7 linked regions of the Homo sapiens genome follow. The protein of the gene in region 3 purifies or fractionates together with the protein of the main gene of each other region. This does not show direct contact. Each region holds a gene or a part of one and is shown on either strand. Other genes may lie near its edges.

The links.
Region 1: the proteins of RTN3 (region 3) and TMEM68 purify together in Homo sapiens (affinity purification with mass spectrometry; one large-scale study listed by BioGRID and IntAct). This does not show direct contact.
Region 2: the proteins of RTN3 (region 3) and MMP15 purify together in Homo sapiens (affinity purification with mass spectrometry; one large-scale study listed by BioGRID and IntAct). This does not show direct contact.
Region 4: the proteins of RTN3 (region 3) and ESYT2 purify together in Homo sapiens (affinity purification with mass spectrometry; one large-scale study listed by BioGRID and IntAct). This does not show direct contact.
Region 5: the proteins of RTN3 (region 3) and RTN1 purify together in Homo sapiens (affinity purification with mass spectrometry; one large-scale study listed by BioGRID and IntAct). This does not show direct contact.
Region 6: the proteins of RTN3 (region 3) and SNX19 purify together in Homo sapiens (affinity purification with mass spectrometry; one large-scale study listed by BioGRID and IntAct). This does not show direct contact.
Region 7: the proteins of RTN3 (region 3) and BACE1 purify together in Homo sapiens (affinity purification with western blotting; one study listed by BioGRID and IntAct). This does not show direct contact.

What each region holds. Positions count from the first base shown.
Region 1 is NC_000008.11:55,762,721-55,767,197, reverse strand, and holds part of TMEM68 (DGAT1/2-independent enzyme synthesizing storage lipids), read left to right. Parts: intron 1-3,217; 5' UTR 3,218-3,262; intron 3,263-4,169; 5' UTR 4,170-4,238; coding exon 4,239-4,477. UniProt on the Homo sapiens protein: Catalytic subunit of the alternative triglyceride biosynthesis pathway, which mediates formation of triacylglycerol from diacylglycerol and membrane phospholipids.
Region 2 is NC_000016.10:58,034,777-58,039,253, reverse strand, and holds part of MMP15 (matrix metalloproteinase-15 preproprotein), read right to left. Parts: intron 1,783-4,477; coding exon 1,634-1,782; intron 989-1,633; coding exon 860-988; intron 1-859. UniProt on the Homo sapiens protein: Endopeptidase that degrades various components of the extracellular matrix. May activate progelatinase A.
Region 3 is NC_000011.10:63,683,887-63,688,363, forward strand, and holds part of RTN3 (reticulon-3), read left to right. Parts: intron 1-4,477. UniProt on the Homo sapiens protein: May be involved in membrane trafficking in the early secretory pathway. Inhibits BACE1 activity and amyloid precursor protein processing. May induce caspase-8 cascade and apoptosis.
Region 4 is NC_000007.14:158,738,785-158,743,261, reverse strand, and holds part of ESYT2 (extended synaptotagmin-2), read left to right. Parts: intron 1-1,365; coding exon 1,366-1,739; intron 1,740-4,140; coding exon 4,141-4,239; intron 4,240-4,477. UniProt on the Homo sapiens protein: Tethers the endoplasmic reticulum to the cell membrane and promotes the formation of appositions between the endoplasmic reticulum and the cell membrane. Binds glycerophospholipids in a barrel-like domain and may play a role in cellular lipid transport.
Region 5 is NC_000014.9:59,595,248-59,599,371, reverse strand, and holds the end of RTN1 (reticulon-1), read left to right. Parts: intron 1-2,584; coding exon 2,585-2,627; 3' UTR 2,628-3,389; downstream 3,390-4,124. UniProt on the Homo sapiens protein: Inhibits amyloid precursor protein processing, probably by blocking BACE1 activity.
Region 6 is NC_000011.10:130,898,932-130,903,408, reverse strand, and holds part of SNX19 (sorting nexin-19), read left to right. Parts: intron 1-24; coding exon 25-154; intron 155-1,563; coding exon of another isoform or gene 1,564-1,633; exon of another isoform or gene 1,634-4,477. UniProt on the Homo sapiens protein: Plays a role in intracellular vesicle trafficking and exocytosis. May play a role in maintaining insulin-containing dense core vesicles in pancreatic beta-cells and in preventing their degradation. May play a role in insulin secretion.
Region 7 is NC_000011.10:117,305,861-117,310,337, forward strand, and holds part of BACE1 (beta-secretase 1 isoform A preproprotein), read right to left. Parts: intron 1-4,477. UniProt on the Homo sapiens protein: Responsible for the proteolytic processing of the amyloid precursor protein (APP).

The sequences.
Region 1 (4,477 bases), on a different chromosome or scaffold from region 3:
CGTAATCTTCACGATAGTCTTATTAGGTAGATGCTATTTTTATTTTACAAATGAAGAAACTGAGGCAGAAAGATATTTAAGTACTTGCTAGGTTTTTTTACACGTAATCTTCACGATAGTCTTATTAGGTAGATGCTATTTTTATTTTACAAATGAAGAAACTGAGGCAGAAAGATATTTAAGTACTTGCTAGGTCACATGGTAAGTGGCAGAGCCTCCCAGGATACAAACTCAGGTTGCCAAAACACCATATAATTATCTCAGATTCTACGTCAATTTATTAGCAAATCCTGTTGGCATTATCTTCAAAATATATCCAGAAACTGACCATTTCCTACTGCCTTCCCTCTGCCACATGTATGTAAGCCACTTTCATCACTTATTGCAAATATTCCTATTTGCTGCCTGTGTAGTATATTCTCAACACAGCAGCCACTTAAAACCCAAGCCAGGCAACCTCACCCTTCTGCTCAGTGCCCTCTGATGCCTTCTCCATCTCACTTAGATAAAAGCGTGCATAGAGGCCGGGCACGGTGGCTCATGCCTGTAATCCCAGCACTTTGGGAGGCCGAGGCGGGCGGATCACAAGTTCAGGAGATCGAGACCATCCTGGCTAACATGGTGAAACCCTGTCTCTACTGAAAATACAAAAAATTAGCCGGGCGTGGTGGCGGGCACCTTTAGTCCCAACTACTCGGGAGGCTGAGGCAGGAGAATGGTGTGAACCCGGGAGGCGGAGATTGCAGTGAGTGGAGATCACGCCACTGCACTCCAGCCTGGGCAACAGAGCCAGACTCCATCTCAAAAAAAAAAAAAAAAAAAAAGCGTGCATAGAAAGCTCTACAGTGTTGCCTCTCTGGTCCATTTCCAAGTGCCCTCCCTGTCACTTTCTCAGCCTGGCATCCTTGCTGCTCCTCAGGCCACACCAAGTGCACATATTTTGCACTTGCTGTTCATTTAGCTAGGAAGTTTGCTTCCTTCCTTCCTCCCTCAGGTTTCTGCTGAAAAATATCTTTTAGAGAAGTCTTCCCAGAATGCCTTATATAACATAGCAACCTCCTCCTTTCCCCTACTCCCGTGCCTGACATAGAACTCCATATTCTTCTTACACTGCTGTTTATCTTTCTCCCTAGCACCTGTCATCATCTGACCTAGCATGTATTTACTAGTTCTTTGTTTACTGTCTATCTTCCCCCTCTAGGATGTAAGTCACTTGAGGTTGTAGACTTTGCTTTATTTGCTGCTGAGGAAATGGGTGGTACATATTAGGGTACATAGGTGCTAAATAGGTCTTTATAGAATGATTTATCATCTTCATTTTCAGAGAAACAATGAGACACAGAGAGGTGTAACTTGCTTAAGATTGTAAAGCCAGTATTCCAGTATGTTCAGTCTGGCTCCTAAGCCCATTCATGTCATCCACTGTGTTCCCGAAACAGACTGAAAGGATAGGCTATGTCTTAGCCCACCTCATGAAAGTTAATAAGCAGATGAGATGTATAATCTTTGCTGGGCTCAAAAAGGTTTTTTTCAAGTGTAGTTTGTAGAGATGTAGAAAATAGTAGCATATTTTTAGCTGAATGAGTCAGTATGATCGAGTTACCAAAAAAGCTGCTGTGATTCTATGAATGATAGCGATAGCAAACATGTAACACTGATTACATGTAAGGTATTCTAGGCTCTTTACACAGATTAGCCCATGTAATCACAGTAATCTCATGAGGTAGTTAGGATTATTATCCTAGTTTTATAGGTTTTAGCAAACGGAGGCACAGGGGTTACCGTACATGGTGTTGTCAGTATCAGATAACTGGAGTCAGCAACTCGGAGTGGTCTTGAGTGCTGAAAGCTTAAGAAACCAGGGGCTGAGAAGTAGTTGAAAGAATTAAGGATTCTGACTGGAGAAGGAATTTTGTGGCTCATGGCAGCTGTTTTTAAACTTACAAGGTTGTTTAATGGAAGAGGGTCTGTGGTACAAAACTAGGTCCAGTAGGGAAAAGTTACGGGGAAGTTAAGTATAAGGAAGACCTTTTTAGTAGTTCTGATGGATGGTTGCTATGTTGCATTCTAAATGATCAAACATGGGTAAATTATAGTGATTTGACTTTTTTTATTTTTATTTTTTGAGACGGAGTTTCACTCTTGTTGTCCAGGCTGGAGTGCAATGGTGCAATCTCGGCTCGCTGCAACCTCCGCCTCCCAGGTTCAAGCGTTTCTCCTGCCTCAGCCTCCCGAGTAGCTGGGACTACAGGCGTGCACCACCACTCCCAGCTAATTTTATATTTTTAGTAGAGATGGAGTTTCACCATGTTGGTCAGGCTGGTCTCAAACCCCCGACCTCAGGTGATCCACCTGCCTTGGCCTCCCAAAGTGCTGGGATTACAAGAGTGAGCCACTGCGCCCAGCTGGTGATTTGACTTTTTATATGGATTGATTAGATGATGATGTAAATAAAGCCCAAGTTGTGGGCTCAATGTTTGCTATGTTCATCTCCTGTAACCATAACAGACCAGATTTCTCACAAGTAAATGCTATTGGTTACAAGGAAGTTAGATGAAATGTTTCATTCCTGGGAGAACAAGTCAGTGCCTGCCCTCCTAATAAGCCAGTTAGCAAGATAATCTTAGAATAAAAACAATACATTTTTCTTATATGTACATCTCCTCCTCTCCTTTCATCCTTTGCTTTCATTTATTCATTTTTTGCCTCAGCTACAAAGGACTTGAGATAATTTTCAGTAAGATTATATAGTATGGAATAATGATAAAATAGTTCTAAGAATACAATCAAAGTATGGAGAAAGGAAATCTTTTGTAGGAAAATATTATCATAGGGCTAATATAATTGTATAATTGAATGTTATGTTTCACCTTCAGGTTATCTGGCAAAGTTACTAAAAAGAATCATAGTCAGTTATATATCTTCATACTTTTTCTCCTAAGAAACAAAGCTTTTGAAAACTTTGTTTAAAATAAATTCTTAGGTGGGGCTCTATATAGTGGCACTAAACAGTGTAGAGTTGTCTTCACCAAAGCAATGGTAGCATGAGTGTACTTTTTAATTGTAATATACCAGTGTGGGCCTATAATCATATTTCTTAAACATTTATGAATGTCTCTTGCTGTTTATTTTATAGAAATGCTAACTCTAGGTATTAATGATTATCTTTTTTTTTCTTAGTAATTTATTTCTTACATTTGTTTACTGTGCTTTCCAGAATAGAGACATTGAAGTTTGGGACAAGATATTTATCTAACTTCTGGTAAGTCCAATGACTGTTTTAGAGAGTGAATTTGTAAAATAATTATACAGCTATATTTTCAGTCATTTAAGATTTAAGATAAAAACAGTACTGATAAATTTTTATTGCATAATGAACTTTTGTAAATCTGTTTCTCTATAAAAAAACAATATCCATTAATGTATGTAATCATTTCGTAAAGAATTGGGTTACTTTTACTGAATTAGGTAGATATTGATGTTTTCTTTTGTGCAGAGTTATCTCAATATGGCTGGGCATGGTGGCTGATGCCTGTAATCTCAGCACTTTGGGAGGCTGAGGTGGGTGGACCACTTGAGGTCAGGAGTTTGGGACCAGCCTGGCCAACATAGTGAAACCCTGTCTCTACTAAAAATACAAAAATTAGCCAGGCATGGTGGCACATGCCTGTAGTCCCAGCTGCTCGGGATGCTGAGGCAGGAGGATTACCTGAACCTGGGAGGCAGAGGTTTCAGTGACTGAGATCGTGCCACTGTACTCCAGCCCGAGCAAAAGGGTGAGACTCCATCTCAAAGAAGAAAAAAAAATTATCTCAATGTGACCTGGTTTAAGATCTAATTTTTCAACATGATCCAATTAAGATGTGAGTCAAATTATTAAAATCAATCTGAAATTATATTCCTCATCAGCTTTATTTTCTTCTCTTAATTATAGCTTTATTTTCTTCTCTCAATTATAGTGAATTATTTCAAAAGCTAAACACGACATACTTCATGAGCAGACAGATGAAACCTTATAATTTTCACATTTAAATCTGCAACAAAGTTAACCATTAACCATCTACTCATTTTGGGTATTAAGAAATGACTCTATATGCTATTTAAGTAGAGTAAAACATTTAACTTTATAGCTGTGGAGAAAATAATACTGGATTATTTTTCCCTTCTAGTGTCAAAATTAGCGACCTGCTATGGCAATGAAGAAAGAAACTGAATTTGTCATTTTCACCTGAAGAAAAATGATAGACAAAAATCAAACCTGTGGTGTAGGACAGGATTCTGTGCCCTATATGATTTGTCTGATTCACATACTCGAAGAATGGTTTGGTGTGGAGCAGTTGGAGGACTATTTGAATTTTGCAAACTATCTCTTGTGGGTTTTTACACCACTAATACTTTTAATACTTCCTTACTTTACTATCTTTCTTCTCTACCTTACTATTATTTTCTTACACATTTATAAGAGAAAGAATGTATT
Region 2 (4,477 bases), on a different chromosome or scaffold from region 3:
TCCATGTTGGTCAGGCTGGTTTCGAACTCCCGACCTCAGCTGATCCACCCACTTTGGCCTCCCAAAGTGCTGGGATTACAGGTGTGAGCCACTGTGCCTGGCCGATTTCCAGTTTATCTGTTAAGTTAGAAAAGAGTGTGTGTGTGGTACTTTCTTCACAGGGTTCCAGTGAGGATTAGAGGAAGTAAGTTGTAGCCAGAGACTGCATTTGATGACGTATGGTGAGGCCTGCTCTTACCTATATAAATCAGATTCAGCTCTGTGTGCTAGACATTAAACCTGAAGGGAATATTTTAGCTGGTTGGACCTTGAATTCACTCTGGGGGCTTGAGGTCTAAGTGACCATGGGAACCACTCTTCCTTGGGAGATGGAGCTTGGAGTCAGGACAGAGCCAGACTGGAACAAGAAGGGGAGCCCTTGGGGACAACCACATGGCTCAAGGCACACTTGGCTGGAGGGTTTTCTTGCTCAAGAACTCAGCAAAAAGGATGAGGGCCCCTGATCCAAGGATTCTGCAGGTGACTTGCTGCCTGTTCACTTGATGGATGCCTGGATTCCTGCACCCCAGCCATCCCCCATCCCTTGCTGCAGTCTGTGCTGGGGCAGTAGCCCAGCTGTGCCCAGTGAGGCCAGCCCCTGCCTGCAGGGAGGTGGGGGGTGGGGAAGGACAGGGTGGAAGTAGCTTGAAGTGTCCTGACCTTCCCTCGAGGGAGACTGCCTGGCGTGTGTGGCTGGTCTCATCAGCGTGAAAGCGGGCTGGACTGTTAAGGCTGGGCGCCGAGGTGGGCTCTGGGAAAGGAGGTCTGAGGCTCGGCCTGCCGAGGGGCAGATGCTTCCCTGGGCAGCTGAGCCCCCTACCTAAAGGTCAGATGGTGGTTGTTCCACTTCCTCCCGGTGAGGGCGTAGCGCTTCCGACGCCGCCGCAGGTTGGCTTTCACTCGTACCCCGAACTGGTCTGGCACCCCACAGCGGGGCCGCTTCATCCACCTGGGACATGGACACAGAGGGGTGAGCACGGAGCCTCCCCTCCACACACCTGCCTGTTCTGGCACTGCCACTTCCGCCACTTCCGGGCTTCCCAGCCGCCCCTCCTATGACACAGTGGGGATGGGGGACTCTCAGCTTCAACTTCCAGTAAAATGGGCAAAATGCCTGTATTGGAAGACTGAGTGCCCAGGAGTGGTTCAGTCAAGGTGAGCCCTTCTCTCCTTATCACCCAGTAATGGAGGGTTCGCTCAAGGCCTTCTGTCCTGGATACGTTATGCTCTGTGCATTGTTTTCAGGGACATGGCTTTAGGTCATGTCACTTGTTAGATTCATAGCCATGCCTAGCTACGATTTCCCTTCCACAGCTCCTGTACTGTACCTCCACACTCCCCTGGCCATGTCAGACATCACTAATCAATCACTGTGCTTCTTACTGCTAAGGCCTGGATTCTGCCCCTGGAGCTTTCTCAATACAAGGCTTTGGGCAGCCACTCCAACCAATCAGAAGTGACATGGAGGACCAAACCATTTGGCATCTCTTATCTAGGCCACTCTTTTCTGGAAACTCCACATGCTGAGCCCTCTTGAGAGCAGGCCAGATGGAAGGCAGGTGCCTGTGGGGTGTGGATGGTGGGGGGAACTCACTCCTTGGTCTCTTCGTCGAGCACACCGGTGACTGGGATCCCGTAGAAGCGCTGCATCTCTGCAAGGGCCGAGGCCAAGATCTGGGCGGAACGCATGGTGGACATATGGCGGCTGGGCTGAGGCAGGTAGCCATAAAGCCGCAGCCAGTTCTGCAAAGAAGCCGCAACTCTGTCAGCAGGTCCTGGCACTGCTACCTCCAAACATGCACAGCCTGTGCCGACCACTTCCCACCACCTCCACCACCGCTGCTCTATCTGAGCCGTCATCACCTCCTGCCCAGGTGACCGTGTGAGCCTCAGCACCCTCCTCCCTGTCATCTCTCCTCACATAAGAGCCAGAACAAAGGCCAGGTCAGGTCTGGTCAATCCTCTGCTTAGAACCCTCTGAAGATTTCCCATTGCAAAGGAAAAGCCATTTGTACAAGAGCCACAAGGCCCTCACTGTCACCCCACCTTAGCTGGACCTCACCACCATCCACCCCAGCCGGGCATGCTCCTGCCGCAGGGCCTTTGCACTTCCTGCCTCTGCTGCCTGATGCACTCTCCCGCCAGACAACTGAGAGGCTTTCATCCTCATTTTCTTCAGGTCGCTGTTTCAATACCACCTTATCTAAGAGGTCTTCTCTGACACGTTAAAAAGGCCCCATCAGCTATACCCTGCACCCCCTCCTTCCTCCCATGCTTATCACCCATCTGATGCACTGTACATTTCAATTAGGTGTTTGCTATTTGTCTTCCCCCATTAGGACAGAAGCTGTGTCCACAGTAGCTGACAACTGCACTAGCCCCTCTGGGGTGGGCCCCTACCAGGCCAAGGACCCAAAAGGATTCAGGACCTCTTGAGGCCTTACTCTTTGGCACTGCTCCCCAAAGACCTTAAATCTCCTGGAAGGAGTAGACAGATGCAGGTACCCATCCAGGCTCAAGGGCAGGACAGAAGCCTGAAGCCCAGTCCCTGCTCTGCTACAAACTCTTTATTCTCCCTGGGCCCCAGCTTCCTCACCTATAGAATGGGGAACCATGGGCTGCTGAGGGGTGAGGTTTGAGGAAAACAGCCTTGGAAAAAGCTGGTACACAATGGGTGTGCCCTTCCCTTTCTAGGGCTTGCTTGGCAAGTCTTCTCATCCATCCACCACCCACCCTGCCAGATGTTTCTCAACACCCTCTGTGCCAGCTGGGGGCCATGGGAGGACTAGGCTGAGGCATCCTGGCCTTCAGGAACTTACAGTCTCCCTGGGAGACCCAACACACCTACAAAACAAGGAACCCACACCCCACAGGTTGCACGGCCAAGCCAGAGGGCAGAGACAGGCCGAGCTGTGGTAGAGAGGGGATTCTGCCCTGCCTGCTTCATGTCCTCAAGCCCTCAAGAGCACGGTGACCGCCATGGGAGGCAGTGAGCAGAGGCCAGGGGCTGCCCTGGACCTTGGACACTGCAAGTGTCTGTGTCTGACTTGTCTGGGTCTCTGGGGGTCTCCAGAGTGAGAAGCCCTTAAGGCTGGCACTCTGAGTGCTCTGGGAGGTGAGGGCTGCACCCCGAGGGCCCAGGCAGCAGGGCAGTAGCTGGACACGGTGGTTGCTTTAGGCTGACAGCCATATTGGCCGGCCAGATCACACTCACATATCTGCCTGCCACCAGTGTTACATCTAATACCTCAGGCACCTGCTTTCTGGTACCATCCACCAGCCCAGCCCTGGCACCCGGCCAGGTCCCTGGTGTGGCTGGGCAGGCCAGCTCAGTGGTACCCAGGCTGCCAATAGACGGAGCAGCTGCTGACCCAAGGAGGGGCAGCATGGAGAAGCTGCCAGGGTCGCAGACTGGATGCGCAGCCACAGCTTTGAGGCCTCTCAGGACCCGGGAAACAGCCCCAGAGCAATGAGGTGGAAATGCAGAGCTGAGAAACCACCACCAGCTCTGGGGACAGGTGGAGCTAGGCAGACCCTGGCTTGGCTATTTCCGAGGTGTCACTCCACCTCCTTATCTCTGTCGGTCATCAGTAAAAGGGGGATTGCACCAGGACCTGCCTCATCTCCTGGGTTCCTGTGAGGAGGAATCGTAAAGTGCATGCTAGTGCCTGACACCACCCTGTGCAGCAGATGGTGCTCGACAAACGTGCAAATGACAGAGACCAGAGGCCTGTGTGGTTGTCCCTGGGGCAGGCAGCCTTCGGCCTCCTTGACCCATCATTGACCAAGAAGGCTGATGGGTCTGGACTTCCCAAGACTGGTGATGGGCCAGGCTCCACCAGGACCCCAGAGTGGAGGGAGGCAGGAGGCCCCTAGGGCCCCTCCACTAGCACTCCTCACCTCTGGCCCAGGGCGCATTCCCACAGCTCAATAAGATACTGGCAATGTCGTGGGTACCCTCCCTGTTCTTCCCAAGCACGGGAAACCTCTCCCAAGGCTCCTGTGCTGGAAGGTGTGGAGCAGCAGATCCACCATCCTTAAAGGACAGTTTCCCTGAAGGTGCTTAGGGAGATCTAGAAGGCGAGGCCATGATGCTCAGCCAGCTCTAACGGCAAAGGGAATGCAGCTGGAGGCCGGGGGAGTGGCGGGGGACTGGCTGCCGGCAGATGAGGGCACCTCTACATCACCTATTTGCATAAGGTAAAAATATCTCTGGGAGCGCAATCATGGGCCATGGAGGGGCTGATTAGCGGTATCTGCGGAGCGACAGGAGGGGAGGGTGGGGGAGGATCAGGCTGGGGCCCTGGGGAGGAAAGCAAGGGAGCTGGCCTGTCTGCAGTGAAGAGCTCCAGAGACCGGCAGAGGGGCCCCTTCAACCCCGGGGCCAGCTCAGGGGCTGCCAGGAGGGTCCCAAGGGCACTATGGACCCTCCACACAG
Region 3 (4,477 bases):
AATAATATTAAATGCCGCGGTTTCCACTCGTTATTTCTTTCTCTTTTCTTTTCTTTCTTTTTTTTTTTTTTTTTTTTTTTTTTTTTAGACAAGGTCTTGCTCTGTCACAGACTGGAGTGCAGTGGAGCCATCTTGGCTCACTGCAACCTCCATCTCCGGGGTTCAAATGATTCTCATGCTTCAGCCACCCGAGTAGCTGGAATTACAGGCGTGTGCCACCACGCGTGGTTAATTTTCTTTTGGTTTTTTTTTTTTTTTTTTTTTTTTTGGTTTTTTTTTTGAGACGGAGTCTCGCTTTGTCGCCCAGGCTGGAGTGCAGTGGTGCGATCTCAGCTCACTGCAACCTCCATCTCCCAGGTTCATGCCATTCTCCTGCCTCAGCTTCCCAGTAGCTGGGACTACAGGTGCCCACCACCATGCCCGGCTAATTTTTTGTATTTTTAGTAGAAACAGGGTTTCACAGTGTTAGCCAGGATGGTCTTGATCTCCTGACCTCGTGATCCGCCCACCTCGGCCTCCCAAAATGCTGGGAATACAGGCATGAGCCACCACACACGGCCCACACCTGGTTAATTTTTATATCTTTGGTAGAGATGGGGTTTTGCCATGTTGGCCAGGCTGGTCTCAAACTCCTGGCCTCATGTGATCTGCCCTCCTCGGCCTCCCAAAGTGCTGGGATTACAGATGGGAGCCACTGTGACCAGCTTTACCCATTATTTCTTAGTAAAATTTTATTACAGAATTTGTATTTCTTAGATGTGCTGTAGACACGTATCACTATTAGCACTTAAAACAGTGATATATAGTAGTACTTGGTAAGTATTTGTTGAATAAATTATCAAATTTACGAGCTAGAAAGGCACACTTGAGAAATAAACTAAAGAGAAACTCTTTTTGGAGTCTCGCTCTGTAGCCCAGGCTGGAGTGCAGTGGTGTGATCTTGGCTCACTGCAACCTCTGTCTCCTGGGCTCAAACCATTCTCCCACCTTAGCCTCCTGAGTAGGTGGGATTACAGACATGCACCACCACGCCCAGATAATTTTTGTACTTTTACTAGATATGGGGTTTTGCCATGTTGGCCAGGCTGGTCTTGAACTCCTGACCTCAAGTGATCCGCCCACCTCGGCCTCCCAAGGTGTTGGGATTACAGGCATGAGCCACTGAGCCCAGCCAAGAGACTCTTATCTTAAATGCTTATCCATTGCAAATGTGCATTCATATTGTCTAAAAAGCACTAATACAGTTTTGGTGGGCCCAATGCAAGATCCTCATTTGTTGGGTCACTACTTGAACATAAAAGTTTACCTTAAGATACTGCAGTGTGGGGCCAGGCACGCTTGCTCACTCCTGTAATCCCAACACTTTGGGAGGCTGAGGTGGTTGGATCACCTGAGGTCAGGAGTTAGAGACCAGCCTGAACAACATGGTGGAACCCTGTCTCTACTAAAAAATACAAAAATTAGCCGGGCACAGTGACGGGCACCTGTAGTCTCAGCTACTCGGGAGGCTGAGACAGGAAAATCACTTGAACCCAGGAGGCGGGAGTTGCAGTGAGCTGAGATCACACCATGGCACTCCAGCCTAGGCGACACAGCAAGACTCCATCTCAAAAAAAAAAAAAAGTTACTGCAATGTGTTGTAATCATTTTTATTGCAGAAGCCTTTCCTCCTTGCTGGATGTTTTTCTTCATGTCACAAAGGAAGTGTCTCAGGCTTTTGCACCATGAAAATAAGATGAAGTTTGTTATTCCAAAATTTAACTTATTTAAAATGTAGATGCTAAAAAATTACCTTAATTGTTTAAAAAAAAAATCTGTACGTATTGCTGTCATCCTCCAGCTTCATGTTCTTTCACCAAGCTCCTCTTGGTTTTGGAGACTTGTCTTGATTTTAGTTAAAGAAAAATAAGTGATTGGTTGGTGTCCTACAGAAAACAATTTTGTCTTGACTGACCTGTCCAGTAATTAATTTTAGAAGTATTAGTTACTATATACAGGTCAAGAATGAGTGATGGCACTCTGTACTTTAGTGCCTTAGGTTCTAATGCAGCCAGCAATGTAGTATGCTTAGAGATGGGGATCAGGGGTCAGGATGGCTTCCCAGATTTCTGCCTTTGAAGGAAACTGAAGATATCAGAGGCAAAAATTTGAGGTTGAGGTAAAAGAGACTGAAATATTCAGTGTTCATTTCAGAGCAAGAGTTGCCTTTATTAGGCCTCAAGTATAGAGACACGTCTATCATCTGAACTTTAAAAGTACTTTAATAGTTTACTGATGACACGATGTTGAAATTCTGTAACTTGGCCGGGCACGGTGGCTCACGCCTGTAATCCTAGCACTTTGGGAGGCCGAGGCAGGCGGATCACGAGGTCAGGAGATCGAGATCATCCTGGCTAACATGGTGAAACCCTGTCTCTACTAAAAATACAAAAAATTAGCCGGGCGTGGTGGCGGGGCGCCTGTAGTCCCAGCTACTCGGGAGGCTGAGGCAGGAGAATGGCGTGAACCCAGGAGGCGGAGCTTGCAGTGAGCCTAGATTGCACCACTGCACTCCGGCCTGGGGGACAGAGCGAGACTCCGTCTCAAAAAAAAAAAAAAAAAAAAGAACAAATTCTATACTTGCTAGAGACTGCTTTTTATTGTTGTTATGAAAGTTGGCTGAGTCTGGTGGCTCACACCTGTAATCCCAGCACTTTGGGAGGCTGAGGTGGGTGGCTTGCTTGAGCTCACGAGTTTGAGACCAGCCTGGACAATAGTGGTGAAACCCCATCTCTACAAAAAGACAAAAAAGCAAGAATTAGCTGAGCATGGTGATGTGCGCCTGTGGTCCCAGCCACTTAGGAGACTGAGGTAGGAGGATGGCTTGAGCTGGGGGCAGAGGTTGCAGTGAGCTGAGATTGTGCCATTGCACTCCAGCCTGGGTGACTGAGCCAGAACTTGTCTTAAAAAAAAGAAAAGAAAAGGAAAAAAGAAAATCATGATGCCAAAATAAAACTACATTTTATATGTTTGTTCATGGAAATTAGCTCAAAGCAAAAACAGCTTGGGCAATTTTTTGAAAAAGGTTTTGCTTTAAATATTTCTTTCCTCACTCATGAAACTTAGTTGTTCTGTGTACTTTTTATGGCTTCATTTTCACACTTTGTTCTACCATATTAATCAAATGTGAATATGTAATTTGTGTTTTGAGTTAACCCTTAAATAAAAAGGAATGTGGCCCCCGTCCAACACTGACATCATCTGAGTGTTACATTCGTGTCAGATTATCAGTGGCAGTGTAATGTGTTAAAACACAGACTTGAGCTCCAGGAATGCCTAGATTTCAATCCTGGCCCTGTCTCTTAATAATTATGTGATCTTGTGCAAGTCCTGAGCCTCAGTTTCCTTAACTTGAAAATTGGGATAATAGTATCTATCTTGGAGTTGGTATGAAAATTAAACACAATTTGGCTGGGCACGGTGGCCCACGCCTGTAATCACAGCACTTTGGGAGGCCAAGGCGGGTGGATCATCTGAGGTCAAGAGTTCGAGACCAGCCTGGCCAACATGGTGAAACCCTGCCTCTATTAAAGATACAAAAAATTAGCTGGGTGTAATCCTGTAATCCCAGCTACTCAGGAGGCTGAGGCAGGAGAATCACTTGAACCCAGGAGGTGGAGGTTGCAGTGAGCCAAGATAGCGCCATTGCACTCCAGCCTGAGCAACAGGGTGAGACTCCATCTAAAAAAAAAAAAAAAGTGAACACATTTATAGGGCTTAACACAGTGTCTTGCCTGTAGTAAATAACTGTACCATTAATGTGAAGAAATGAAATATAGATCAACAATGTGACCTAGACACATTTGCTTTGTACCCTTAAATCCTGACCTTTATTAAATAACAATACCTAATGTTTGACATCCATTTGTAGGTTACAAACTACTTGCACATATTAATAGATACCACATAGCAGTTCAAGTACAAATGAGAAATCTGTCTTCCTCACAATCAAAGACTATTGTTATGCCTTTTTTCCCTTTCCACATGTGAGTCAGTTGTTTCAGTTTGTGGCCCTTCACATTAATGTCATAAAGCTGCCACCCGCTTCCACTGAGGTGGTCTGTTAAAGAGGTAGAGGGAGGAGTCAAGATGTTTCCCAGAAGGCTTGGCATGAATCAATATGCTTAAATACTTATGCAGATTCTGACTAATAAATGTTGTTATGATACATTAGGAAACCCCTTTCAGCACAGAGGCAAGCATACAGGAGACAGCAAGAATGGTCATGTCAATATGGCCTGCAAATGCCTGCTGACTTGGATTGTTTTTATTCTCCAAGAATAAGAAGTGTGTTTTGCTTTTTTTTTTTTTTTTTTGAGACGGAGTCTCGCTCTGTCGCCCAGGCGGGAGTGCAGTGGTGCGATCTCAGCTCACTGCAACCTCCATCTCCCAGGTTCATGCCATTCTCCTGCCTCAGCTTCCCAGTAGCTGGGACTAC
Region 4 (4,477 bases), on a different chromosome or scaffold from region 3:
CCTGTGAACCCAGCAACCTTACCGTTATCCTTTGGCCCAGAAAGTGTTACTGTTGGTATCAACAAGGTTTTCTCCTAAGTCTTAACTTTTCAAAGGTTGTTCAGAAGAGAGAATTTAATAAAACTCCACGAGACAGTAGAACTTACAGGAAAAAAATATTTTTTGTCCAAAATCACGATTCATTTGTAAATAGCTAAGGAAATATTGAAAGTAAAACTGGCAAACATATGGGGAAATACTAAAACTCATGAATCAAAGAAATGCAAATTAAAATAAAGAGCCAGCTTTTTAAGAAAATTACAAATGTCTTCTATTGAGGGGGCAATGGGAACAGCCTCCTTGCCCCGGCAGAGACTGGAGGTGTCGCACACCTCTCCAGAGGGAGCTGCGACAACCCTGAGCCACTCATCTGAAGGCTCCTTGGCCTTTCTTCTAGAAACCTGACTTTTGTTTTGGTGATACAAAGTGTGGGGAGACCAGGAACATAAAGATGTTCACCGCAGCGTTATTTCCTAAAACCAGAAAAAACCTTTAAGCTGTCACGTGAGTGGAGTGATTTACAAGGTGTGGACTCTGCTCAAGCCAGCCCAGGGACCAGCTCATGTGCTCACACAACTGGGAGACCCCAGGCCCTGCGGGAACCCCCTGCTCCTGCACTCATGTCAGGTTGTTGGGGTGATCTTGCTGGATAGCAGGGGTTCTGGACTTTCTTCCTCCCTCTGGGGACGCCGGGTGGAAACCCCTTATGTAGAATACGGGCTTTGGTCTTGTGTCGAGGAAATGCGACTCTGGGCTCTTGATGTAAAAACATTGTCCCACAATTGTGTAGAAATACATGGAAACGGAAGAGACTAGAGGAATACGCAGAAGTGTTATGGGGGGCTCCTTGCCTGAGACGTGGCCTGGGGAGGATGGAGGAGCTTCTGCCCAGGTTGTGTGGCACCAGAGGGTCAGCTTCAGGGGGGTGGCCTGCCCTTCCACACCAGGCTTATCACTGCCACCGCCCTGTTGCTGCCACCAGAGCCTGAAGACGCAGGCCTCGGCGATGCCCCAGCTACTTGGCAGGCTGAGGCGGGAGGATCTCTTGAGGCCAGGAGCTTGTGGTGTAGTGCGCGATGGTCACCCCTGTGAAGAGCTACAGCACTCTGGCCTGTGCAGCTTAGCAGGTCCTCATCTCTGGGAAAAAAGTGGTATTTGTATCACAGAAGTGACATTTTGGTTACCTAAACTTTCCTTTAAAAAAAAATTTTTTTTTGAGCTAAGTTTTAAAGAAATTTTTGCAGGTAAAGACATCCCAGGCTGTTCCAGTATTAGGATGTTACCAGTGTCACCAAGTTTAATTTTTATGTTTATGTCCACCTCTAGGTGCTCCATCTCGAAAAGCGAGAAAGGCCTCCAGACCACCAACACTCAGCTCAAGTCAAACGTCCCTCTGTGTCCAAAGAGGGGAGGAAAACATCCATCAAATCTCATATGTCTGGGTCTCCAGGCCCTGGTGGCAGCAACACAGCTCCATCCACACCAGTCATTGGGGGCAGTGATAAGCCTGGTATGGAAGAAAAGGCCCAGCCCCCTGAGGCCGGCCCTCAGGGGCTGCACGACCTGGGCAGAAGCTCCTCCAGCCTCCTGGCCTCCCCAGGCCACATCTCAGTCAAGGAGCCGACCCCCAGCATCGCCTCGGACATCTCGCTGCCCATCGCCACCCAGGAGCTGCGGCAAAGGCTGAGGCAGCTGGAAAAGTAACTAAGTGCCACCATGTTGTTTCTCACCAGCAGAGCAAGCGCCCCCCACCCCACGCTGGGGGAGAGTCGTTTAACGCAGCAGAGCATGAGGCCGGCATGCTTTGGGGAGGGAGGCCTAATCTTAGGTTAACTGAAAGCACTTCAGGTTGTGTTGCCGTTTTGCTCACTGCATCTCGGACTTTGGAAATAAAACCTGCCATTTTCTAGGATTTAGTCATTAAAGATTAGAACGTGATGGAGTAATAGGTTTCACAGTAGGAAAGACAGGAGGCAGCGCCGGGACGCTGCTGTGTGCCTGGGCCTCTGCCAGGAAGACAGACGCAGAGCTGGCCCGCGGGCCTCGCTGCGGCCACTGGAGAAGCCCTGGCCTCCCCGTTGTGTGAGGACAGACCTGCTCTTTCACGTAGTTGGATCCCATCCCTGTTGCTCAGTCTCTTTTGTTTGTCTTCGGATGTCTGTGTTGGCTCCTTATTTAAGCCCCATGACTCATAGGTGTGTGTTAAGGGTTTCTTTAGATACGGAGGAAAAAGTTGTCTGTAGTTATCACAAGCTTCAGATGTTAACCTTTTCCTCTTGGTGGAAGAAACAAAATTGACCTTTGAAATAGTTCTCCCTGTGTGGTGTTATAAGAGGTGTGTTGAATAATAAGAAAATAGTAACAGAAACGGAGGCAAAGGTGCTTCTGAGCTGTTAGAAAAAGCACACGCAGACTGTGGAGCTTGCACAGCCGCCCTCCTCTGAGCCACACTCACTTTTTTCTTTCATGCTTTCTCATGTCCACTATTTTGGAAAGAAGAAAACATTCCTTCTCTCTTGCTCCAGAAGGAAATAGAATTTTAAACAAGGAAACACTTTTTCTCAGGAGCTCAATTTGGGAAGTAGAAATGATCTTAGGGGCCACTGAACAAACAAGACCAGTTGTCATTTTGGGGGTCTGTGTTCCATCCTTGAGCAGAGAGAAATGGAAGGAAGGGCGCTGCAGTCTCATCAGATGGGAAGAGAGCACGTGGCTTGCATGAGGCTTTGAGACGGGACATGCAAATTCGGGTAGGACAGGCTAGAAACTGCTTAACAAGGACCACAGGGCTGATGCTTGTAATAAGGACACTGTGTGGTTTTAACCTCGGGTGCTCAATTGGTGAATCATAAGATCTGCACATTTAGAAAGGAGACTATTCCTTATCCTTATAGGGTTGCAGCCTGCAGGCTGGCCAGCCTGACAGGCCCGGAAGCACCTCAGAGGAGGAAGGGTAGGGCAGGAGCTTGTGCGGAGCACGCGTCCTCAGCAGGTTCCAGGAGGAGCTGTGAATGCCGCAGAGTGCCCAGCCTCTCTAGAACAGCCAGCAGCAGTCCGTGGTCAGGGTCTGCCATCAGGAGGAAGTTGTGAAATCAGCCTCTCGTCAGTCAAAGCTGCAGTTAGCGCCGGTGGAGCAGGGGTCACTGAGTCAGCATCTGGATCAGGACAAGCTGGGATTTTGCTTTAACACTGCTGCTCTCGAGGCCAGTGCTTGTTTAGCTGCTGGAGAAAGAAACACCTGGTGGCAGGTAGAACCCAGTTTATTCTGTTAAGCGTTGGGTGTGAGGCTTACCCTTGCCTGGCATGGCCCCAGGTCTTCTTTGTAGCTTGGTATCTTACTGCCGCAAGGAATCTGTTCCTTCAGTCTTAACGATCTCTGCTGCAGCATTAATGCCAGTCGGTTGTTGCATCTGAACTGCGAAGGGGGGGGTATAAATAACCTCCCGTCCTGTTGTGGTCAGGAACTCAGTGTTTAAGTTTCTCTGGGGTCCCCTGGGTCCACTCACATGGGAGTGGGGTGGGGGCTTAGGATTTTACTTTTAGTTTTCAGGACCCTAACTAAAAAACTGTCAGTTGGCTGGACGCGATGGCTCACGCCTGTAATCCCAGCACTTTGGGAGGCCGAGGCAGGTGGATCACCTGAGGTCAGGAATTTGAGACCAGCCTGGCCAACATGGTGAAACCCCATCTCTACTAAAAATACAAAAAATTAGCTGGGCGTGGTGGCGGGCGCCTGTAATCCCAGCTACTCAGGAGGCTGAGGCAGGAGAATCGCTTGAACCCAGGAGGCGGAGGTTACAGTGAGCCAAGATTGCGCCATTGCACTCCAGCCTAGGCAACAAGAGTGAAACTCCGTCTCAAAAAACAAAAACAAAAGAAATAATGTCAGTTTTGAATAATTAATTTATATTGAACCCTCAAGTAAAATATTCATCTGTTTGACTTGTACCCAGAAGTTTCAAATTATGTTTAAGTTCATGGGTAATTTGACTTCTTTTTGTCTAAATGAATAGAAATTATTTTATCGTGTACAGTGGACCAATGAATCACAACGTTCTCCAGTCTCAGGCAAGCTGGTGACTTTCTGCTCTTTTCCCACAGCGGGACGACCCTGGGACAGTCTCCACTGGGGCAGATCCAGCTGACCATCCGGCACAGCTCGCAGAGAAACAAGCTTATCGTGGTCGTGCATGCCTGCAGGTGGGGGCTGGGGTCCCACGCGCCCGCTGCTGTGCTGCTGAGTGTGGATGCTGGATAGGATGATGTAGACACCGCCTTTAGGATTTCCAAACATCCATTTATGTTTCATTTAGAAAGGACAAAGCAATTAAACCTCTAGAGACGGTGCTCGTAAAGGGTGTCACCACTGCGTATGTCACATGACAACGTTTTGGTCACCGAAGTACAACGGTCCCCTAAGATCATACTGTATTTTTAC
Region 5 (4,124 bases), on a different chromosome or scaffold from region 3:
CAAAAGCAAATTCAGAAGATGGCAAGCTCAAGATTCAAAATGAATCAAGGGATCTTGAGTAAGCGAGAATGCCGAATTGAAATCAATAAAATGAAATTAATAAGGAAAGTGAAGTCCTACATTTAGGTTTCTAAAAAGTCAACTTTACAGATATAGAATGCGGCGAGGGATAGATGAGAGAGGGTAACAATAAGGGTGTATGTAAAAAATACCTCGGGGGTTTTAATTGCTTGATTGGTCACAGCCAAATGTGAGTCAATGATGTGCTGAAGCATCTTTAAAAAATCAATGCAAGTTGAGTTGTTATTAGTAGGAGTACAAAGTCTAAATCAACATAGGCAACAGTCATATTATATTCCATATTGGCCATCCCATATCTGTGTTCAATTTCAGGGTTGGACATTTTAACAGATGCATTAATACATTGGAGTAATGCCACAAAGATGACCAGGGTACTGTGGTATTAGAAATCTGATAGTAATGGGCAGTGAAGAGCAAACTTTGCTGGGGATGATTACCCTGGAAAATAGATGACTTTAAAAGGACACCATAGCCATTCTCAAATACTTGGAGGTCTAACATTGCTAAAGGAGTAGGATTTCCCTTTTTCTCTCAAGAGCAGTGAATGGAAATTTTAGAAGTTCTGAGATTTGAATGAAATATGAGGGAAAAGAGTAATGATTAGAGTTGCTCAATAATAGAACCATCTGCCCCATGAAGGAGTGAGTACCCTGACATTCATTCAAGTATTCAAATAGAAGTTAGATGGTCACCATTGCACATGTCCTCTGCTGGCACCTCTTCCTCTTGTCCAACTCCCTTCTGGTCCTGTGACCCTAAAGGTTATCTCATGTCTAGGGCTGCAAACTTGTGTCTCCAGCCCAGACCTCTTCAACTAAGCACCAGGTCTATCCACTTATTTATGTAAGGTTTCTCTAAAGTGTCTGATAGACCTTTCAGATTCACTTAGCCACACATCGTGCAATCTCACCCCAGAACTTGTATTTCCTTCAGTTATCACAATCTTGGTAAATGGCATTTTCACCTGGTTCCTCAGGCTAAAAACCAAAGAATCTTCCTTGATTACTCTTCTTCTAATCCTAGCCTATGCATTCAGTTTATCAACAGATCAAGTGGGTCCTGCAGCCTCATCTCTAAACTAACCCTGAGACTGTTCCCCTCTCTTCATTTCCATGTCTACCATACAATCCAGGCATTGCCTTCGGGTACTTGGACTGCTGTGGGTTTCTCTCCCTCTGTTCATTGCTTCTACTCTCATTTCCCAATTTTTTTTTTACACAGCCACCATCATGATCTTCTTACAACATTAATCAGATCACGTCACTCCCCTGCCTAAATTCATCAATGGTTTCCCATCACACAGGGTAGAATCTAAACTCCTCACCGCATCCCACAAACTCCAACACCCACCATCTGGTCCCTGCCTGCCTTTCAGACCTCCCCTGTCCATACCCCAAGCAAACGGGCTTCTCATCTCCTTGCCGCCAGCTTGTCCTCTCTGTGATGCCTCTGCACTCATTACTCCCTCTGCCTGAAACACTTCACATCCAGATCTTTGCCTGATGGTCCCTTCCTGTCCTCTGAGGATCAGTTTCTCAGATGAGTGGATTTAAAAGAGGTGGTACACACCTTACCACTGTGCCCCTCACTGCCTGCCATACCACCTTGTTTTTCTTTATAGCAGTTATCACCATCTAAACTTCTCTTGTCTTCTAGTTTATTTCTGTCTCCTCAATTCCTACAGGAATGAAAACTCCATGAGAGCAAGCATCTCCTCCCTTTTGTTGACCACTGAATTCCAGTACATGGAAGGGTACCTCATGGCACAGAGGGAGGTCTCAATCAAAATCTGCACGATAAGCTCATAAATCTTCAAATTAACAAAACACTTCCAGTGTAAACCTGTCCGAAAATCATGCTGCTACATTGTGAGCATCACAGAATTTCAGGACCCTGGAGATATCTAGTCTATGCCCACATTTTAATGAGTATTTAGGACCAGAAAAGTCCCTTAGCTTGCCGGATGCCACACAGCTAATTAATAGAATAGCTGAGACTAGGACCCAGCTTTTTAAATTCCAGTTGTGGGTAATTAGACTACTCTGAGGGTGAACATAGGTTCCTTTTCCTATGTCCAACATAGGAACAGATTATATCCCTAGTTATATAACCATCCCTACTTATGCTCATCTTCCTGGCATAGTCAGTAATAGCACTTTCTCTCTCTTTCTGAAGTGTCCCAGATGGGGGATAAATAATCACCCTAACTATATCACAGTTTCTGTAATCCTGAAATAAGTCAATATGTTCCTCCACCTAAAAAGATCTAAAAAATGTGGCTTTCTTCCAATTCTCTTTTTTGTTGCTGTTATTTTCATTATCCAGTTTTTACTTCCTTCTTATTGCTTTATAGAAGAGTATTTGCAGATGTACTTACATAAAGACTATAATATCTTCTGGAATATTAAGTTCTTTGGTCACTTAGCTAATTAAAGCAACAACACATAAAATGATTTCATTAATAACACTTGTGATTTACTACCTTTTGATACTGTCTTTTTAGGATTCAGGCTAAAATCCCAGGCGCTAAGAGGCATGCTGAGTAAACTGATTTCCCACCGGGGACTGGACACAAACAGGAATGTCTGGAGTGGTAACAGCTCTCTTCTTACTCATTACTGCAAATTGATTGTCTTTCCCCCCTCCCTCCAGTACCATAATCTTAGAGACAAACCTTAAAACAGCTGTTTTTAGGCTGTTCCTTGTACTCTTAGGATATTTGAGTCACTTGTGTCAACCACTAAAGTATAGAGAAAAGTGTATTAGATGTGGTTTTTAATTTTGTGTTGCTAAAAAAAGTGCATGATGGTGAGAGCCCAAGTTATCTTTCCCTCTTCGGTGTTCTTCTTCTCTTCTCTGCAATGCTTCTGTAGCTTCTAATGTTCCCCGTGGCTAGGCCTTTCCTGCCGAGTGCTCTGATGCAATAGTGGAAATCGCTTATATGTCCTTGGGTTGCTGGTTGGATTAATCTTTAATAACAATATATAGAATTGTAGACTGATGTTTTAGCATTTTTCCAACACACACAACGTAAAAATAAAAGCAGTCGACCGCACTTATGGTAATCAGTTTTGTATAACTTAAAATAATTAAATAAATGAATAAATCCAAAACAAACATGCAGTACTTTTGTTGTATGGGATTGGTGGGCTGATTTACATGTATGGTTACTAAAAAGTACCAGCATGTTAACTTTATTACAATTTGTATTACTTTCTCTGTAGTTCCTAATGGATTCAATTACGGACTCTGGATATTTGCACTTATGTACTTGATACTGAATGCATAAATAAATGTTACTAAATGTAGAATGTTCTCCCTCTCTTCTCATGCATGGTCTTACCAGAAAACACAAAAGCTCGAAGTGATGAAGTCACTCGATGACATTCTAGGAGGGCTGAGAGCAAATGCTCACCTTATTTCTCTCTAGGACTGTGGAGTCAAACTGCAACCTGGCTTACGGTTTTTCTGGGTCATTAATAGAAAACTGAAAAGTGGTAAACTGTCAATCACTCTTCATATTGTACTCTGTCAGGTGGATGCAGATATTTAAGATAGTTTTTAAAAACTTGAAAGTGATATAAATTCTTACATAAACTGTACGGCAATATGCAACAAAACACTGGCAAAAACAATTGTAATTGCCATGAACTCACCGTTTTAGTAATTACTTATTAAGCACTGACTGTGTGCCAAGCACTTAGAATAGGGCTGTGAATAAGAAAGATGACAATTCCTGCCCTCACCATGTGAAGTCTTCTAATAATTCCTCACTGCTTTTTATACAAGTCCAATTGCATATTTTGTTTCACTGCTACAATCAAACATCAAAGACGAAGAGGTAGAAGTGAATGAAAGGAGTAGCAGTTGGAGAAAAAAAGGAATGATTGCTTATAAAAAGCTGCCTTTTACCAGTTTTACACCTGGGTTCAGTGAATATTTGTGGAGTTATCCTTCTATACAAAGTGGCGTGAAGGTTACAAGGGTCACTTGGCACTGTGCCAACAGCCAGAAACTCTCATCACTGTGCTGGGGAAAGGGCA
Region 6 (4,477 bases), about 67 Mb from region 3:
TCCTGATGCCATTTTATCCCTCAGGAACAGAGACAGAGTTAGCTGACACAGCCCTGGATCTGCTCCTCTTGCTACTAACAGAACAGTGGAAATGGCTATGTACCGAAAACATGCAAAAGTTTCTTCGTCTTATCTTTGGGACCCTAGTTCAAAGGTAAGACTGCTGAATTCTCCCTCACATCAGAATCTCAAGTTGCAGAGAAGGTGGATGTGATGCTGAATAGTGTCCAGGGAATCTGCAGCCGTAAGAGAAGATAGATTCTCTGTTACAGGGGTTACAGGGATGAAAAATGCCTTGAGAGTATCAGAAAGCTTTTATTGACTACCTTGTTGTCTACAATTTGAAAGTAAGACTGTAAGACTTCTGGCATAATGTACTGAGTTGCAGACACTGTGTGTGATCCTAAAATACTTAGCTGAACTCTTCCTCCTCTCAATTTTCCACCCAGTTATATCCTCCAGCCCTGCACCTCTCACTTGGTTATGGTGGACATTTGTCTCAACTGACATTATGTCATCACTGTGATGATAAACAGTGGGAAAGAAAAGGAGAAAACAGATCAGTGCTCTTGAAATAAAGATTGTTTTCTCTGAGAGGGGCATAAATATTCACAGCTGAAATACTTACTGACACAGGATGGTAAAGAATAGAGGGAAATTTGGATTTGCAAGTTGGCTTTTCTAATCCAGTCTTTGTAATCCTCACACCATTTGATCTCCTGAAAGATTTGTACACAGGTGGAGTTTTTAGCTGCTGACTTTCTAACTATGGAACTGATGTAAGCTTTGTTAACCTGAAGTAGGCCAGAAACACTCTCTCTGAGCCAGGCAGACACACGTAGTGCTTGGGTTTTGGCTACTCTTGTTTTGAACTCCCTCTTATGAGACGTCCTGGCACATCCCAAAGTAAGAGGAAGCCAAATGCTGACCTTCTCTTAGCATGAGGCTCATGCTAACAGGTCACTCAAAAAATACATCCTTATAAAAAAGAATTATGTATCTATTCTTTACCAAGTCGAAAAGTTATTAACAGCAAGCAATTAAATCTCCCTTTTCTAAGTTATGTAGGATCAAGGAGGTTTAATAAAATTGAATCATAAAGAGACCAAGTGAAAGAAGATGATGCACATCTATATTTGCTAAGCGCTTATCTATGCCAGCGCCCAATCTCCATTTACATGTACTTTTTTATAGTGGTCAAGTGAGGTAGGTAGCCCCATTTTACAGAATGAGAAAATAGAGCTTGGCAAAGTCAACTAACATGCCCAAGGTCGTCATTAGTAGCACACTTAGAATTTTAAACCAGATTTGTACAACTTCAAAGCCAATGTGCTTTTTTCATGTATCTTGTAGCCTTAAGACTGATGTCCAAGTGAAACCTACATATAAAATGCTGACTGGTCTTTGTCCCTTTAAGCTTTTCCCCTTGTTCCTACTCAGTATTCAGCCCTGCCACTAGAGTGCCTTTTTCTGAAAAACAAATCTGAACATATATTCTGCACTTAAAATCTTTCAGTAGTATCCTATTACCTACAAAAGTGGTTTTTCCATTATGTTTCCTAGAGTTCTAGGGTTCTGCAGAAGTGCTTCTGAAGCCAACTTAGAAGCTCAGGGAAAACTGAGTGGACCATGACCCAACCACAGAAGTTACACTTTGATCAGTTTAATATACTGGGGCTCTAGGTAACGCTTTGTTTGAAAAGGGGCTCCACTCTGTTTAAAATATGCATTTATTTCTTTATATTAAAATTCCACCTCCTTTCTTACTTGGCATGATCTGGTTTCAGTCTTATTTTTCATTTTCCACCGTGTAAACGTCCATCATTGCCTGAATATTCTGTGGTCTTTTACCCCCAGGCCTTTGCTCATCTTCCTGTATCTGCCTTCGAATGGTCTTTCTCTACCTGTTATTTCCCTGTTCCTTCCATGTGTTCCTAACTTTTCCTCTTCTTGTCTGCTTGGCCTACTGCAAAACATTTTTCATATATTAAGCATAAAATGTCATTTATTCTGTGAAACCTTCTGTAGCATCTGCTCTCTTTCCCCGAGAATTAAGGAGTCCTCTTCTCTAACTTGCAAAGTTTTGATAATAATACTTGTCACAGTGTGTTTATATAAATGATCTGCTTTTCCTACACTAGTGGTTGTCAACTGGGGTACACTTTTGTCCCCCAGGGGACACTTGCCATTATCTGGAGATATTTTTTGTTGTCACAACTGGGAAGGAGATGTGGGATGCCTACTGGCATCTAGTGGATGTAGGCCAAGGATGCTGCTAAACATCCTGCAGCTACACAGGACAGTCCACCATGCCAAACAACGTGAATTATCCTGCCCAAAATATCAGTGTTACCAAGCTTGAGAAATGCTGTGTAGACTATTAGTTCTTTAAGGACCGGAACTAGCTTTGTCTCCCCAGCAGCTTATACAGGGCCTGGACATAGTAGGTACTCATTAAATATTGAATAAAGAAATAAACATTTCCCTTCCCAGTACCTTTACACTTGAAAGTATAGTCTCTTTAGTTTTATTCTGTCACCTCTGGATGTCACTAATTAGGCCTTCATTTCTCTTCTTCTTTTTTTGGACTTCCCTTTGCTAATCTTCTAAGTGGTTTAAAAAAACAAAATGAGAAGATCCCAAAACTAGCTAGTGTGTGATCTAATATGACCCCTTCTCCTTGAGGTCATTTACATGACAGATTGGTTTCAGAACACGAGAAATTATTCAGTATGAGGATAAAAGTATAGATGAGTTAGGAGAAATTCAAAAAAGATTGAGATCCTTATATAAAAGGGGTAGGAAAAAGTTGACCTGAAGTTTGAATAACTCAGAGTGCTCAAGGGTTTGGGCTAGTCCAGATAAAGGAGAAATACCTATATTCTGGGAGTTAGAGAATGATCACAGAAGTACTTTTTCATGTGGCCGGGGCCCTGGGAGATCTAAGGCAGAAAAGTTAAATACGAGCGAAGCAAGCTCCAGCTGCGTGGCAGACATGGAAAAGACAGGGCTCATTTTAGAGTTCAGAGCAGAGGCTGTGAGACTTCTTTCTTTTTCATTTTTCATATATTGAGGATAAAATGTCAATATATGAAATATCAGTGAGATGGGATTTCATTCTGTCGCCCAGGCTGGAGTGCAGTGGCACTGCAATCATAGCTCACTGTAACCTCCTGGGCTCAAGCCATCCTCCCACCTCAGCCTCCCAGGTAGCTAGGACTACAGGCACACACCACCGTGCTTGGCTAATTTTTTAAATTTTTTGGTTGAGATGGGGTCTCACTATGTTGCCCAGGCAAGTTCCTCACCTTTCCATTCCTGTCCCTGACACTCCCCAACTACAACCACAACTCCAGTGAGCTGGGTAAAGTCTGGTGAATGCAGACTAGCAAAACCCAAATGTAGCTCATGCCATAAAGGAAATGAGGGAGAGGGCTTACAGCTGAATTTCCCTAGACTTTCTCCTCTTTTCACATTCTGACTTTTTGTTTTTTGGTTTTGTCTTATTCTGTTTTATGGAAAAGCATCACTATTGTGATGGGAAAAGTGGGAAAACTCTGAATATATTTGGTGAATTTGAATGAAGCCACTGTGAATATTGGGCAAGAACAGCATTTTGCGGCTAGTTACTTTTGAAAAACTTGTTGTAACTATGGCCTGTTATCTTTGGTTCATTGTACATATTTCCAGGTGAAGATGTTTTATACATGTTCAGTTACCTCATATCCCTTCCTGTCAACAAGTTCTTATATCTAAGAATACAACTTTATCCTTAGCCCATTTGGTTTTGTATTAGCTGCAATGAAAATAGGACCACATCTGGTTAGCAGTCTCCTCACCCAAGCTTCCACAGACTAGAATTAAATGAAGAATCTCATACTTCTCTGTTTGAGGCCATTCATGTATCCCTACAAATCATTTTTCCCATCTTTTTAATGACATTTTTGGCCCTCTTCTGAAGTACCTTATAGCTGGTTTCACAGTTTTCCTGAAGCCTCCTTAAGATAGGAAGCTAGAAGTCATGATATCTAAAGAAAGAACCGGTTCTTCCACTAGAGCTTCCAAAGATCTGGCACTGGTGGCCCATGGTCTCATACCTGGAAGCACCCTGTGCATTATAGACATGGAGCTAACACATTTTAGCATTCAGAGTGTAAACGTTGATAATCTCGTCAGCATCAGCACATTTGCTGTCCAGCAAATGTTTATCGAGAGTTGACTTAGTGCAAATACTGTACTGAACACTGTATGCACATGCTGTTCAAAAGCCACAGTTACTTTTGCACCAACTTAATACCATTTAATTCCTCCAAGTCCTGCGAAAGCGGTACTATGACCCTCATTTTAAAGACAAGGAAACTAAGGTTTACAAAGAATGTGGGTTATCTAGTCAAAATCACAGGGTTAATAAATATCACAAGCAGAATTTGAACCCAGGTTTTTCTGATTTATAGCTGTGATGATTGTCTAAATTTCA
Region 7 (4,477 bases), about 54 Mb from region 3:
CCGTCTCCACTAAAAAATACAAAAAATTAGCCGGGCGTGATGGCAGGCGCCTGTAGTCCCAGCTACTTGGGAGGCTGAAGCAGGAGAATGGCGTGAACCCAGGAGGCGGAGCTTGCAGTGAGCCCAGATCGCACCACTGCACTCCAGCCTGGGCGACAGAGTGAGACTCCGTCTCAAAAATAAATAAATAAATAAAAATAAAAAATAAAGCAGCGGAATCCTTTTCCCCTTTTCCAATTGTATGCAGGATCCTAGTGTACAAGAGAGAAAAAGACAGAGGTGTTCTGTTTGAAGGGGAGGTTTGATTTCCTCTGCTTCCCTCCCCTGCCTGTGCTGGCTCTTGAGGCATCTCTTCAGCACCTTTAGCCTCTGCGGAACCCACCTGGAAAACCCATGCTCCACAAGGTATCACAGCAGCTATTCGCCACCTGTTTTTCATGGTCAGACAGTAAGTCCTTCCTGTTATTTAACCTTGTCCCACCCACAGGTTACAGTGGCTTGAATCTTCTCTTGCTCTGTCCTCAGTTGAAAATGAAGCTGACCATGGCACCTGTGTCACGCTCAGCACATGGGCTTGTTTATTCAAGCCATTGGGAGATGCTAGAACTCACTCCTTGTCCTACCTGTCAAAACCTCCACAGGCCTTGGAAAAGAGTAAGTGGTAGGGCCAGGCACAGTGACTCACGCCTGTAGTCCCAGCACTTTGGGAGGCTGAGGTGGGCGGATCACTTGAGGTCAAGGAGTTTGAGACCATTCTGGCCACATAGTGAAACCCCGTCTCTACCAAAATATATATATAAATTAGCCGGGTGTGGTTGTGCGTGCCCGTAGTCCTAGCTACTTGGCAGGCCGACGCTGGAGAATTGCTTGAACCCAGGAGGTGGAGGTTGCAGGGAGCCGAGATCGCGCCACCGCACTCCAGCCTGGGCAACAGAGTGAGACCCTGTCTCAAGAAAAAAAAAGAAAAAAGGCTAAGTGATGAGATTCACTGACCTTGAAAGACCAAGCAAGAGGACACCCAGCCTACAGTGCGCAGCAGAGAGGGTGGCCCCAGAGTGACAGCAGCTCAGGAAATATGGTGACAGAGGATAAGTTGGCATGGGAGGAGGCAGAGCTTGGCCAGTTTGCTTTGAGGAAAAGGACCTAGGAGTCCCAGCTCCCCCACGTCAGAATCCCCCCAGTTCTGCTGATTTCCTCATTCTCCCCAGCACAGCCCAGCTCTCCTATTTTGGGAAACACCTGGCTATAGTACCCAAGGCTGCGGTACTAAGGATGTACTCAGGTGCTGTCGCATCCTGCCAGGAGAATCTCAGGGCAGCTCCAGAACTCAGAAAATGTTCTGGTTCCTTCCCAGAACTCTCCCCTGCCCAGGCACCTGAAAGAGAAGGCTCCCAGGAGAGACAGAAGTTAGTCATTAGGTATGGGGGCTTCCCTGGGAGGTGTTTCTCTTCCTGGATTTTCTTTTTTTGAGATGGAGTCTTCCCCCTGTCGCCCAGGCTGGAGTGCAGTGGCATGATGTTGGCTCACTGCAACCTCCGCCTCCTGGGTTCAAGCGATTCTCCTGCCTCAGCCTCCTGATTAGCTGGGATTACAGGCACGTGCCACCATGCCCAGCTAATTTTTGTATTTTTGGTAGAGACAGGGTTTCACCACGTTGGCCATGCTGGTCTTGAACTCCTGACCTCAGGTGATCTGCCTGCCTCGGCCTCCCAAAGTGCTGGGATTACAGGTGTGAGCCACTGTGCCTGGCCTCTTTCTGGATTTTCAACTGGAATTTTCTGCCCAGCCCTTTATTGGAGAGGCCCAAGAAGGGTTCCTGACCTTCCACCTTAGTGCTTTTAGAGAGAGCACAGTCTTTCTCAATGCCCCCTCACTCCCAGCTAAACTCTTCTTTACTGGTCTGGGGAGTAGAGGAGAGGTTTGGAATGACAGGATGAGTGCTCCAGCAAGGGCTTGTGTGCAACCCGAGGCCCAATCCAGGAAAGCCAGTTGTGGTGGCAGGGACTGGGTAGGCAACTTATGGAGCCGGGGTCTTGCTGGCTTTGTCTAATTTGGAGGGTGGTTCTTTGAGCTCGATGGTTTTCAACCTTTTTATTGCAAAAACTCTTTTTTAAAAAAATATAACCCAGAAGTCCACTGTATAAAAACAATAAAAGCAAAGTTATCCTGGGATGCTCAGGAGATTTGGGGCGGGGGGATGGGGATGGCTTGGTGACAGGAAGGGCGGGGATCTAGAGTGTTGACTGCTCCCAGCCTTCTCCCTCACCGCTGAGGTCCCTTTACAGAACCCTGCCAAGCAGGGAAGGAGAGGAAAAAAAGAAAAACCACCTGGTCCTTCTTGGTTTCTGAGACTCTGAGCCCTCATAGTTTTCTACTGCTCTGATCATTTTCTCTTGCTCCCTTGTCTATACCTAATATTCTTTTCCTAATCATTTTTCTCCTTTCCCTCTCTGTTCCCTCAAAGAACAAGTCTATTTTTTAACTTGGCCTCTCTGTGGATGAGTCCTGTCTGCCTGTCCAGTTCTAACTTCTCTCCAGATTCCCACTGTCAGCTGGTGGCTGAATACTTCCACGAGGATGACCCACTAGCATCTCAAAGGCATGTCCCAGATCGTAGAACACAGGAAGGAAAGGCCCCGGTATTTGAACCCCTACTCTGTTCTTCTTAACAGAATCACTTTGGACAAGACACTTAGTCTCTCTGGGTCTCAGTTTCCTTATCCCTGAAATAGATATGCTAATACCTATCCCTTATAATTAAAGCAGAATAATAAACATAAACTTTGGTAAACTATATTGTACTTCCTGGCTGGGTGCGGTGGCTCATACCTGTAATCCTAAGACTTTGGGAGGCTGAGGCGGGCGGTCACTTGAGGTCAGGAGTTTGAAACCAGCCTGGCCAACATGGTGAAACCCCCATCTCTACTAAAAATACCAAAAAAAATAGCTGGGGGTGGTGGCGGGCACCTGTAATCCCAGCTACTTGAGAAGCTGAGGCAGGAGAATCACTTGAACCAGGAGGTGGAGGTTGCAGTGAGCTGAGATCGCGCCACTGCACTCCAGCCTGGGTGACACAGCGAAACTCCATCTCAAAACAAACAAACAAACAAAAAAACTATATTGTGCTTCAAAAGCTTTCCCCTGTTGCTTTGTTCCCTGACAAAAAGTCAGAGAGGTTAAATAAAGCCATCATCTCCTCTTCCCTCTCTCTCACCCCATACATCTCATCAAGCGCAGAGAATAACTGGTTAAACGATGGATGAATGCTGATTCCTCCTTTCTACCCTCACTGCCACCATCCTCTTTCAGGCCCCCGTATCCTGAGATCCTTGTTTGCATGTCTAGAGTCATGATGCTAGACTCTCCAAGTTATTCTGCACACTGAAGCTGTTTTCCTGGAACTAAAATTAGACGATATCATCCCTCTTCTCGTATACCTACAAGGATTCCTTACTGTTTGCAGAATAAAACCCAAAGTCCTGTCAGCCCCATGGCATCCCCACCATGCCTTCTGGCTTCTCACCACAGTTCACGCTTTTCTTCATGAAGTGCTCCTCCTCACCACTCTCCATATTGCAAAGCTTTCTCCTCTTTCAAATACCTCCGTTTTGGCTGGGCGCGGTGGCTCACGCCTATAATCCCAGCACTTTGGGAGGCTGAGGCGGGTGGATCCCTGGGCGAGACTCCCTCTCAAAAACAAAAACAAAACAAAACCCTCCTTTTCCAGCAAGCTGTGCCTAATACCATGTCAGAAGTAGCTGCTTCTCTCTGTGCACTTCCAAGATCCACTGTTTCACTATTTGTACCAAATGCATTTGGTTTTGTGTAATATTTAGGTATTATGTCTATGTCTCACATCAGATTGTGAGCTGTCCAAGGGCTAAGACTATGGCATTATTTTTCTCTTCTACACACAGTAGGCAAGTACTCAACAAATATCTGTTAAACTGAATTGACTATCACCAAATTTCACTCCTAACAGTTACCTTATTATCCTATGTTTGGTCAGTGATGCTCATAATATCAAAATGAGATAACATCCTTTTATTTATTTATTATTTATTTAGAGACAGGGTCTCACTCTGTCACCCAGGCTGGAGTGCAGTGGCGCAATCTCGGCTCACTGCAACCTCCACCTCACGGGCTCAAGCGATTCTCCTGCCTCAGCCTCCTGAGTAGCTGGGTTTACAGGCATGCAGCACCACACCTGGCTAATTTTTGAATTTTTAGTAGAGATGGGGTTTCACCATGTTGGGCAGGCTGGTCTCCAATTCCCAGCCTCAGGTGATCCACCCGCCTCGGCCTCACCTGAGTGCTGGGATTACAGGCGTGAGCTGCTGAACCTGGCCCTTTCGTTTAAAAGAATAAAAATACTTTCTCTAAGAGCTACAGTTCTGCATTTACAACTGCCTGTCAACAGTTCTGTTTAGAGGCTTGCAGCTTATGTATTCATTCACTCAATGTTTTTTAGGTGTAT